2 linked regions of the Homo sapiens genome follow. The protein of the gene in region 1 interacts with the protein of each later gene in a pairwise test. Each region holds a gene or a part of one and is shown on either strand. Other genes may lie near its edges.

Evidence for each region. Proteins that work in one complex are often made in the same cells at the same time.
Region 2: the proteins of TRIM69 (region 1) and IYD interact in binary tests that used the Homo sapiens proteins (3 or more experiments, as listed by UniProt).

The regions. Positions count from the first base shown.
Region 1 is NC_000015.10:44,764,028-44,767,527, forward strand, and holds part of TRIM69 (E3 ubiquitin-protein ligase TRIM69), read left to right. Parts: intron 1-3,203; coding exon 3,204-3,500.
Region 2 is NC_000006.12:150,375,512-150,379,011, forward strand, and holds part of IYD (iodotyrosine deiodinase 1), read left to right. Parts: intron 1-3,500. UniProt on the Homo sapiens protein: Catalyzes the dehalogenation of halotyrosines such as 3-bromo-L-tyrosine, 3-chloro-L-tyrosine, 3-iodo-L-tyrosine and 3,5-diiodo-L-tyrosine.

The DNA.
Region 1 (3,500 bases):
TTCACTGCATGCATGTGCAGATTAGTACTCAGCCACAGCCTTGAGAGAATCCCTTTGTAGATGTTTGTAAGTTTCTGTGAAGTTCCCTCCTCTGTGTTACTCTGCTTAGCAAATTGTAGCTGCCTTGGTATGACAGAGTTTTTCTTCCTGTATACTTTGCTCTGTAAAGCCAAACTTCACTTCTAGCAATCTTTTAAAATGCAAACTGATTTTTAAATTTTTGGTATAATTTTACATCAAGAAAACCAAATGAGATTTATTTAATATATGACTATTTATTAATAATGTATTATTTATCCATATACTCTCCCTCTATACAGAGTGGGAAATTGTTTTTCTATGGTAACTGTGGTCAGACCTTTGTAAAATATATTCCATACTTTTTATTTCTAAGTCTTTGCTTATTTTGTAGATCCATATATTCTCCTTTTCTGCCAGCCTTATAAATTAGGCTGTTGCTTTAGAGCAGGAGCTGGCACTTTTCTGTAAAGGTTTGAAGAGTAAATATTTTAGGCCTTGCAGGTGTATGGTCTTTGTTGCTGCTACTTAACTCTGCTCTTGTAGTGAAAAAGAAGCTACAGACAACATATAAATGAATGGTCATAAATGTGCTCCAATAAAACTTTACTTACAAAGTAGGCAGTGGGTCAGATTTGACCTGTTGGTTGTAGTTTGCCTACTCTAGCTTAGGGAATTTTTCAATTTAAAATATTTGCATGAACAAATGCCCAAATAATGTGGAGTGAACCATATGGGGAAAAAGCATTCTAGGACAAGGGAAGAAATTATAAGGACCCTGAAGTAGGAATGATCTTCATTATGTTCAAGGAACTGCCAAAAGACAAGGGTGGATGAATCAAAGTAAATGAGGGAAAGTGTGGTAGGAGATGAAGTAGAGAGGTAGGTAAATCATGTGGCTCTTTTTTCCTCTATAAGGACTCTGGATTTTATCTCAGATGTGATGGTAAACATAAGAGTATGCTGAGCAGGGAAATGGCTTGATCTCATTCATGATATGTGTAGAATAGGGTGCAGATGGGCAAGAGAGGAAACAGAAGAGTAAAAAGCTATTGCAGTAGTTCCAGGCCAGTGATATTTCTGGAAGTAGTCAGAAGTGTTTGGGCACAAGATATATTTTGAAGGTGGAGCTGACAGAACTTTTCGTTATATGAACGTGGCATGAGAAGGAAAGAGAGGACAAAAAGCTGACTCATGGGAATCTTCAGAGCCAGTGCAGGCTGAACTAGCTAGAGATGTGTCAGAGGCTTAGCAAAGAGAGCAGAGTGGGATTCCAAAACGTTGCTAAAAAGTCTTTATGGTACCTCCAAAGAAAACCCAGTCCTCACATCAGAAAGATTAACAACCCAAAGTGAATGGGGATATGTAAGGGGATAGGGATTTAGCCTATATGGAAAAATTCAAGATTCTTAATTCTTCAAAGCCTCTTGTTGGAAAGAGAAGTCCCTGGGATAATGGAAAAGACTCAGGCTTTTCTGAGAAGATAGAGTTAGACTAGAGTTCATGACTAGCCTGGCCAACATGGTGAAATCCTGTCTCTACTAAAATTACAAAAAATATCAGCTGAGCGTGGTGGTGCATGCCTGTAATCCTAGCTACTCAGGAGGCTGAAGCAGGAGAATTGCTTGAACCCAGGAGGCGGAGGTTGCAGTGAGCCGAGGTTGTGCCACTGCACTCCAGCCTGGGGGACAGAGCAAGAATCTATCTCAAAAAAAACAAAACAAAACAAACAAACAAACAAAAAAAAAACAGAGAGAGAGAAACTAGATTGATTCTGCTTCCAAGGATAAATAAATCCAATAACAACAAATGCATGCATACATGTATCTGTGTCCATGGTGTGCACACACATAGCTATTAGGTCTCCTTTATCAAATTTCATGTCAAGGTCCAATGATCTCACATCTGGAATTTGTGTCATCCTCTTGCTGGTCAGCTTTCAACCTCTCTTCATTTAGTTTAGATATTCTTTTTTATACTGCTGCCCTTTGAATTGTCTAAACCAATGCTTGTAAAATTATCTGTGATGAAGGGCCAATCAAAAAAATCTCAATCTGTCATGGACTGATACTTTTGTAGAATACAATATAAATTACTTGAAAAAGTAAAATTAAAAAAAGCAAAGATTACAAAGTACAAGCCCAATTTTGTAATTATTAGATTCAACTGACATAAAATTACTGTCAATTTGCTATGAAAGTTTTTAAAAGTTTACTGTTAATTTCTATACTATCTTTGTCCGAGACTGTTAACCACATGGTATGTGGACCACATTATGAGTAGCAATGACATAAACCACTCTAGATCTCAAAAATCTCATTATCTGTTAAACCAAAATAAACCTCTCACTATTGTCCTCTAAACTCTGTACCAGTTAGTTCAGTCTTGCCTGTGTCTAACAGGCAAGCTCTTGTGTTCTCTTCCACACAGGGGACTGTTTTTAATCCATTTCTTTCTTTCCGTTTATTCAAAACATCCTAAATACATCTCATGTATATACAACTGAATACTTACCTTCCTCAGAAAGCTTTCCTAGAACATCCTTACCTAATTTTTACCCCTTTGGCATTTGTATTTTCTTATATTTATTAGTATAGGTTTATATTATTTGTATTGTTTCCTTTAGTAGAGCATAAATTACTTCTGAGTAAACCCTGATTTTTACCCTAAATATAAAAATGTCTAGAATATAGTAACATGGATACCCAAACAATAAAAAGCATGTAAGTGGCCAGGTGCGGTGGCTCATGCCTGTAATCTCAGCACTTTGAGAGGCCTAGGCAGGTGGGTTGCTTGGGGCCAGGAGTTCAAGGCCAGTCTGGCCAACATGGCGAAACCCTGTCTCTACTAAAAAATTACAAAGATTAGCCAGGTGTGGTGGCACACACCTGTAATCCCAGCTATTTGGGGGGCTGAGGCACGAGAATTGCTTGAACCCAGGAAGCGGAGGTTGCAGTGAGCCGAGATCGCACCACTGCACTCCAGCCCTGGGCAACCTTGTCTGCCTCAAAAAAAAAAAAAAAAAAAAAAAAAAAAAAAGCATATAAGTAATTGCTTGCCTGTCTAAGAGTCTATGTGTATGGGGAGATAAAGTACTATTGAATATGAAATACTATCTTTTACTGTGGGAATTTGTGTTTACCCCCCTTTCTCCCATGCTCTGCTTTCTTTTATTTTCTTACTAGGCCTGTCTCCACTAACTCTGGACCCTAAAACAGCTCACCCAAATCTGGTGCTCTCCAAAAGCCAAACCAGCGTCTGGCATGGTGACATTAAGAAGATAATGCCTGATGATCCTGAGAGGTTTGACTCAAGTGTGGCTGTACTGGGCTCAAGAGGCTTCACCTCTGGAAAGTGGTACTGGGAAGTAGAAGTAGCAAAGAAGACAAAATGGACAGTTGGAGTTGTCAGAGAATCCATCATTCGGAAGGGCAGCTGTCCTCTAACTCCTGAGCAAGGATTCTGGCTTTTAAGACTAAGGA
Region 2 (3,500 bases), on another chromosome or scaffold:
TTGTGACTCTCATGTCAGAAATTCTATGCATAGGAACAGCGGGGATGCAAACGGTCAGTATCTACTAGTGCTATGAGACTTTCAGAACAAGGAAGTGGGTCAAAGCAGCCTGATGAATGCTTGATTATAACTACTTCTGTCCATAATTCTTGTTAGCCCTATGAGGATGGCCTCACAGGAAGTGGGATGACTGAGAGGCCCAGGTAGGGAGCACAGCAATGGTGAAGCAGCTGGGAAAGAGGCATTGTCGGGGCAGATGCTGAGCCCTGAAGTGGCTCCCATCCTCACCTTCAAAATCTGCATCACCCTCCTCCTTAGTAACATCACTCCTCAAGGCTTCCAAAATTGCAAGAAGGGAACAAGGATGATGTGACACAAATTGTCCTTGGTTTCTTGATTAGAAAATAGTGGTCCATTTGCAAAGACTGTGTAGTAGAACTGTAAAAACACTAAAGCAATGTATTTGGAGATGTAACCAGAAAAACACTTCCATGCTAAATGTGAAAAGATAGAAGTGACCTAGAATTACTTGGCTGGCTAAACCTAATTATGGCACAATTAACGGATTCCTTGGCATTAAAGCGATTGTAGGGACCAAGGGACTGATTGCTAGAAAGCTGATAAGGTGTATTACCACTCCCCCTTCACATCTACTTCCTTCTAACTAAAAGTATACAGTTTGGGCCAAAACTGCTCCTGCTAGCGAAATATGAAAAGAAATTTCTCCTCTGCCCTCTGAAGGTTCACTGAAAATGAACTGACAAGAGACAGATTAATAGAAGGAAAGGCATACAGATTTATTTAACATGTATAAGCACTGGGGAATCGCCAATAACCCAGTGGGGTCCAGATGCTTATATATCCTTCTTCATAGGGGATGAGGGGATGGTGGGAGTGTGTAGGAGTAAATGACTTTCAGGGAAAATGAATGGGTCCAAAGAACAATGCCTTGGGATGAAGTTCCTTGAGCTTATGAGAGGCAGTGGGAAGGCGAGGGGTGGAACTTCACTGTGAACAAAAGTCTTCTCATTATGCAGGTAAAGTTCCCCAGGTTGTCTCTGTCTGCCTGGATTCCCAGGCAAGGGATCTTAAGACAATTACATTTCTTCATCTTCTTCTTTTCTTTTCTTAATAGATGGGGTATTGCTTTGTTGCCCAGGCTGGAGTGCAGTGGCATGATCATAGCTCACTGAAACCTCAAACTCCTGGACTCAAGCTATCCTCCCACCTCAGCCTCTTGAGTAGCTAGGACTACAGGCACACACCACCATGCCTAATTTTTAGACTTTTTGTAAAGACAGGGTCTCTCTATGTTGCCCAGGCTGGTCTCGAACTCCTGGGCTCAAGCAATCCTCCTACCTCAGCCTCCCAAAGTGCTGAGATTACAGGCATGAGCCACTGGGCACATCCTAATTACATTTCTTTTGGAAAGAAATGCCCCTAGTCAGATAGCGAAATTCCAGAAAGAGTCTCTCTCAGTGCTTCAGGAAAAAGGATCAGAGAGACCAGAGACCAGGCAGGTCAGAGGGAGACCTGGAGGTGCTTCTTCAGTTCACCAGGTCAAGTGCCAAGTGTCAGTATTTTAGGGTATTGTTTGCAGACCCCCAGTGCAAAGATACAAGGCAAGTTACTGTTGGTATCAATAGCAAGTTCCAAGTGTGGCAGCACAAGATTTCATTCAAAAAGCAGACCATAATAGTATACATTTGCTTTGCACTGTGTGGACCTTCGAGCTTGAATAATCCCTAGTGGCTCCACTGCTCTAGAGTGAAGGCAGGAAAACAAAGGGGTTACACAGTCTGCTCTCTTGCCTCTGGCTGAGGGCCACATTCCTCGGGAGCAGTCAGGAGTTCAAGAGAAGGGGACAAGTGGAAGCTCACTGTGCTCCTAGCCCAGCCCTGCTAGTCTCATTCCCCAGCCATAGTATAGACCTTCTGCCCTGTGAAAGGCTCCAGGAATGGCAGCCCGGCTGTGCACTGCTCCGAGAGTGCACTCAGGACAATCCCATCAGGAGGTGATGAGGATCATTTGTTTGACCATTCCCTAGTCAGGGATAATGGTTAGCACTGATAATGAGGTAACAGTTTGCTTCCTTCTGCTAATTAGGAGAGTCTGCCTTGGACTCTAGAAGCTGTGGAAACTGCCAAGTCATGCATTTAGACTGCTTTCAGTTTTTACAAGTGCTGAATGGGTCTTAAGACTTAGTAACTTACCTTTCAAAGAGTTAAGGAAGCATTTAATGCATTTGCTTATATACCACTTATTAACTACAGAGGCTGCCAGACTTCATCTTAAATGGTGTCAAAAGTATCATTGGTGTTGAAAGTCTTTATTGACACCTTGATAAAGTTCAGAGTTGTCACTGTGACGTTCATGACATTGGCATTTCGCTGGGCCAGGACTGATTGTTAGAAAGTTGATAGATGTTTATTACCACTCCCCCATCACACATACTTTCTTCTAAATAGGCCCAAACTGTCCCTGCTAGAGAAATATAAAAGGAAGTTTCCTCACTAAGAGCTATAAGCCAAAAGTAGCGCCTGCTAACGTTGTTATTGGTGTTCCTCAGAAGGTGAATTCTCTACCTGAATTCCACCTGGAGAATGGCCAAGTCCCTCAGGGCGGGTCTTTGACCTTCTTCCACTCTTCCTTTCTTTTTATTTTATTTTATTTTATTATTATTATACTTTAAGTTTTAGGGTACATGTGCACAATGTGCAGGTTAGTTACATATGTATACATGTGCCATGCTGGTGCGCTGCACCCATTAACTCGTCATTTAGCATTAGGTATATCTCCTAATGCGATCCCTCCCCGCTCCCCCCACCCCACAACAGTCCCCAGAGTGTGATGTTCCCCTTCCTGTGTCCATGTGTTCTCACTGTTCAATTCCCACCTATAAGTGAGAACATGCGGTGTTTGGTTTTTTGTCCTTGCAATAGTTTACTGAGAATAATGATTTCCAATTTCATCCATGTCCCTACAAAGGACATGAACTCATCATTTTTTATGGCTGCATGGTGTATATGTGCTCACCATCACTGGCCATCAGAGAAATGCAAATCAAAACCACAATGAGATACCATCTCACACCAGTTAGGATGGCAATCATCAAAAAGTCAGGAAACAACAGGTGCTGGAGAGGATGTGGAGAAATATGAACACTTTTACACTGCTGGTGGGACTGTAAACTAGTTCAACCATTGTGGAAGTCAGTGTGGCGATTCCTCAGGGATCTAGGACTAGAAATACCATTTGACCCAGCCATCCCATTACTGGGTATATACCCAAAGGACTATAAATCATGCTGCTATAAAGACACATGCACACGTATGTTTATTGTGGCACTATTCACAATAGCAAAGACTTGGAACCAACCCAAATGTCCAACAATGATAGACTGGATTAAGAAAATGTGCCACTCTTCCTTTCATTCCTCCTGGTCATGCTCATCGCTTCCAGAGGGCTCCAAATGGGATCTCACCTTCAAAGCTCACACA